2 separate regions of the Homo sapiens genome follow, and region 1 is linked to region 2. Evidence: fine-mapped expression QTL. Tissue or cell type: whole blood. Region 2 holds a variant in brackets; the other region holds the start of a gene. All regions are shown on one strand. Distances are from middle to middle.

Region 1 (2,500 bases), 53 kb before region 2:
GCGGGAGGCGGCGGCGGAGGAGGGGCTCCGGCCCGCGGAGCCGAACAAAGCGGGCCTCAACTTCCAGCCCCAGCTCCCCGGAGTGGGGGCGGCCGAGTCCCGCAGCAACCCGCTCTCCCCTCCCGGAGGTGGAAAGGGAATGTGAGGTGTGGAAGCCAGAGTGCCGCGTGGAAGCCTCGGGCTCTGATCTTTGCAAATCAGAGATGGTTTTGTTTGGGGTCCCCCCACCCCCTTCCTGCCCGCGCTCTCCCACTCTCACACACACGCACCCACACAGTCTCACTCCCTCCCTCTCTCTCCCTCTTCCCATCTCCAGCCCCACTGGGTCGGCCCCGCAGTGCCAGGGGGCTGGGCCGGCGTGACCCCGGGTCCCCCCCGGGCGGGCCCCCACCTGGGGATGGTGATGCACTTGGTGTTGACGTTCTGCGTGGTGATGGCCTTCTCCAGCTCGTCCAGCTGCCCCGTCTTCTTGAGTTTCTTGACCAGGCTCTTGACCGCCTTCTCGCACCATTTCTCCTCCTGCCCGTTCTGCTCGCCCTTCTTCCAGCCCAGCAGGCGCTTCACGATCGGGGGAGTGAAAGGCAGGATGGACGACATGGCTGGGGAGGGCGCGCGGGCGGCGAGGAGCGCCCCCGGCGGGGCTGGGCTCGACGGGACGCCGGGGGCGCAGAGGGGAGCTCGGCCGGGGCCTGCCGCGGTCGCCCAAACTTCGCCTCAACTCTCGGCGAAGTTGCCGGGGCGCCGGGCCGGGCCGCGGCGCTGCAGCCTGCGGGGCTCGGCGCGCGGCCCTGCGCCCGGAGCGGCTCCCACGGCGAAGAGAAGAGCGGCCGGGCGGGCGGACGGCAGCAGTGCAGGGTCGGGAAGGCCCCGAACGCGGGGCGGAGGCGGCGGCCGCGAGACTCCAAGTGGCAGCAGAAGTTTGGGTTTCCGCACGGGGTAGCTGTTTGGGTGCCGCCTCCGGGAAGGAAAGTCCAACCCCCGGCCAAACTTCGCTCGCCTCGCTAGCTTTGATGCGCAGATCCCTCCGCCTCTGCGGCCTCACCGCCCCGCCACCCTCCTCCTCCCGGCTCGCCGCTCGCTCGCTCGCTGGCTGGGCCGGCCCGGGGCGTGCGCCGCGCTCCCGCTCCCGCCCGCTCCCAGTCTGTGTTTCATGCAAATCCGCGTGCAGCCTCCTTTCCAAGTGCTGTCACCGCCCCCTCGCCGCCGGGGCTCCCCGCCTCCTCCCCCGCGCCCCGCCACCTCCTCCCGCGGGCGCCCTGCCCGCCCCCTGCTCCGGGGAGGGCGCCCGGCCGGCCACCACCCCGCGCCCAGCACGCCCACGTGGGCGACCCGGGCGGCGGCAGTCCTGGCTGGAGCGCGCGGGACCCTGCGCGGCCCCGACCTGAAGTCGGGCGGGCGCGGGGAGGAAGTCCTGGGAAACACGGCGAGAGGGGCCTCGGGCGGGAGGGCTGAGCGCGGCCCGTGGCGTCCGCTCTCGGAGTCCACACTCGGGCGGCTCGGTTGGAGTTGCGGGCCGGAGAGGGTTGGACTCGCAGCAAGTAAGCGTCGTCCGGACGCGAGTGCACCCTGGAGAGGACCCGAGCCCGAGAGGGGGCGCGCGGAAGGCCCGGGCCCAGGAAGTTGGGGCCCGCACTTGGCCTCGCGCTTGCTGATCCCCGTCAAGGCCCTTGGCCGGCGCCGGCGCCCCTGGGCTGTTTTTATTCTCTAGTCGGTGAGATCACACCGGCCGAGAGCCTCGGGAACGTGTGCGGAGGAGGAGGGGGTGAGAAGTGGGTCCTCAGAAGTGGAGAGCTGGGGACACCAGTGACAACCTGGACAATGGCTGGAGCCAGGGGTCTCTTGAGCCTTGTGAACCGAGTGCCCGGCAGAAAATGAGCCTCAAGGACATCTGTTGAGTTCTTGAAGGAATGAATGGAGGGGCTTTCGAATTTATCTTTGAAAGAAATTTACATAACAGGGTGTTTGTTGCTGGATCTCCTGATAGAGAAGGATCGGAAATTTGATAATTGCCAATAAATGGAAGAGAGTTTTGTTTCCAAAGCAATGAACTCACAAAAAAGTGGGGCAAGACAGGAGTTTTCGGAGAGTTTGTGTATTCAAAAAAAGCAAAACAACAACAAACCAATTGGCACATTGGGGAGCTCCGCGGCTTTTCTCCCCACCAAAAGAATTCAGGGGCGTCTGCCCGCAGGGCCCTCGGCGGTTTTCAGGAGCTACTCCAGGCCCCTCGGCCTTTCTCTTGCTGCCTCCCGCAGCCGACTAGCCGGTGTCTAAGCCCTTTGTTTGTTTTTAACAGCAGGAATCTCCCACCCCCACCCCTGCTTTGTTAAAAAAAAAAAGTTATCTGGAACCCTCAAGTGGGTGGGGAGTTACAAAGCCCTGTGAGGTGTGGCGGAATCCACAGTCAGCCCAGAAGCGGCAGGGGCCCTTGCCTTGCTCCGGAGAACCGCCTCCCACAAGCCAATCCGCAGCTGCTGCTGCAGAAGTGCGCTGTGCTCCT
Region 2 (2,500 bases):
TCCAGAGAGGGGTGGTCAGTATCTCAATGATAGTCATCAAATTAGATGGGGGGTGGGGGGAGTGGGAGGACTTGAACCCAGTCCTTGATCTCTTCCTGAGTTCTCGGTTCTTTGGTTACTAAACAAAGGAGGAAAAAGATCTAACAAAGATCTAGGTGAAAAGGAGACAAATTCCAAAGACCCCATTTTTCCAGCCACCCATCCTGCCTCAGCAGAGCACTGAGGGCTGGGTGGAAGAACATTCACTCATTCATCCATTCAGCACATCAGGCACCCACCATGTGGATGCCATCCAGCCTGGGAGCCACATGTGCCCAACTAACTTGTTTTAAGTCCATTCAGCAAGGTGGGGCTCGAGATCCAGGCAACAGAGGAAGTAACGAATGGAATGGACATAAAGTTGGTGGATACATGAAAGGTATCATTGTTAATAATATTGTTCCCCTGTTCAGCACATGTTTTAGTCAAGCACCAATTATTAGCAAGGCACAGAGGCACAGTGCTCCAGCTATGTCTGCCAGGCTATGTGCCAGTCACTTTACATGGAATTTCATTTCATCTTTACATCCACCCTATGAGGTGGTGAAGTGGACACCAGGATCTACAAGCTCCCTTTTTTGGGAATTTGGACCCCTCCCCCATCACATGGGTGAGTCCCTGAGGCCACGTTTGTACCTAGTGGTCCCGCCTTATGGTCATAGGTGATTAGATTAGGAGTGGGCATGTGGCTCAAGCTGGGCCAATCAGGTTCTCTTTGTGGAGAATTTATTTATTTATGGAGATGGAATCTCACTCTGTCACCCAGGCTGGAGTGCAGTGGCGTGATCTCGGCTCACTGCAACCCCTGCCTCCCGGGTTCAAGCAATTCTTCGGCCTCAGCCTCCCTAGTAGCTGGGCCTACAGGAGTGCCTCACCACGCCCTGCTAATTTTTATATTTTTAGTAGAGACAGGGTTTTGCCATGTTGGCCAGACCAGTCTTGAACTCCTGACC[T/C]CAAGTGATCCACCCGCCTTGGTTTCCCAAAGTGCTGGGATTCTTTTTTTTTTTTTTTTTTTTTTTTGAGATGAAGTCTCAGTCTGTCACCCAGGCTGGAGTGCAGTGGTGCGATCTGGGCTCACTGCAACCTCTGCCTCCTGGGTTCAAGAGATTCCCGGGAGGCAGAGTGTGTGTGTGGAGGATCTCGGGTGCGGAGTAGCCACCACACTCAGCTACTTTTTGTATTTTTAGTAGAGATGGGGTTTTGCCATGTCGGTCAGGCTCGTCTCAAACTCCTGACTTCGGGTGATCCACCCACCTCAGCCTCCCAAAGTGCTGGGCTTACAGACATGAGCCACTGCGCCCAGCCAAGTGCTGGGATTCTTTGTGGAGAGTTTAGAATTGAGATGTCATATTAACTGAGGCTTATCAGAACTGAGGGGTTGAGGGGGAGAAGAGAGTAATGCAGCAGGTAGCTGAGGGTGGTAGAGAGGCTGGTGGCCTTCCTGTCCAGGTTCTAAGCAAAGTCTGGTTGCTTTCCCTCCTGGGCCCCTCCAGGCTTGCTACATTCTTATGATGCATTCTGGTTTTGCCTAAGCTAGCTTGAGCCAGTTTCTGTCACTTGCATCCAAAGAGTCCTCGGTAGAACAGCGAGTTCCATGATGGCAAGGGACTGGGTCTTGTTCACTAAAGTGTCCTTAGGACCTGGTACATAAAAAGGGCTCCATAAATGTTAGTTGAATTAATAAAAAGTGGAGGTTCCGAGAAGTTAATTGATTTGGACCCGAGCCTCACAGTAAGTAACAGCTGGACTTTGAACTGGGTCTACCGGCTTCAGAGCATGTGCCTTTTCTGCCATACCAGGCTGGCTTTTATAAATTGTTCTCCTTATTATTATATTAAAATCACAGGTAGTCAGAACTAGAGTGAACCTGAAGACTAGTAAGTTTTATTGTTTTGTAGACGAGAAATTGGGGCCTAGGGAGGGGAAATGGCAGAAGTTTCTTGATTCTCATGCAGCTACCTAACCCGAGCTGACGTTTAATTATCATGTGTGTGACACTGCTGTGCTTGCTGTTTGAGTACTGAAATGTTTTCATACCAGTTGATGACTAGCAGCTGCCTCAAGCCCTTAGTGTCCCCTCCTCTGTAGCCCCAGCCTTCAGAACCCCCGGGCTTCCATTATCCACAAGCAAAGGGGTTGTGCTGAGTCCAGCACGGCTCTCCAGGTCTATTCTGATTGGTCAGTATCTGTGCCACTCGACCTGTTAAATATCAGCCTTGAATTTACCTAGTGTGATTTGAAGAGTTCTGGTTACTTTGTCTCTCCATTAAAGAGAAGTGGGGATTTTAAAATATAGCAAAAATAGCATTGCTATCCTTCCCCTCTGCCTCCCATGGCAGCTCAAATTCTACTGTTCAGAAACATTTCATGTATCCACTCACCCCTTCATTCCACAAATATTTACTGGGTGCCGATTCTGTGACAGGCTTTTGGCCCCCAGGAGCTCTTGTTCCCCACCACC

What was found. PIP is the estimated chance that this variant, and not a neighbour inherited with it, causes the effect.
Region 1: it holds the start of SMAD3, and the variant in region 2 is fine-mapped to the expression of SMAD3 in whole blood (TOPMed, PIP 0.96).

Annotation. Positions count from the first base shown.
Region 1 is chr15:67,064,252-67,066,751 of GRCh38, reverse strand. SMAD3 (SMAD family member 3) reads right to left here and starts at 1,150. Exons shown (of 9, transcript NM_005902.4): 1 at 392-1,150. The coding sequence starts at 597. RefSeq lists silencers at 1-23, 44-103, 354-403, 554-713, 884-1,373 and enhancers at 1-592, 2,132-2,500.
Region 2 is chr15:67,011,088-67,013,587 of GRCh38, reverse strand. All of the region lies in intron 2 of SMAD3-DT (SMAD3 divergent transcript), which reads left to right. Among named protein-coding and RNA genes, the nearest start is that of SMAD3-DT, 52 kb to the left of the region's middle. The variant T/C (reference allele first, on the strand shown) is at 993.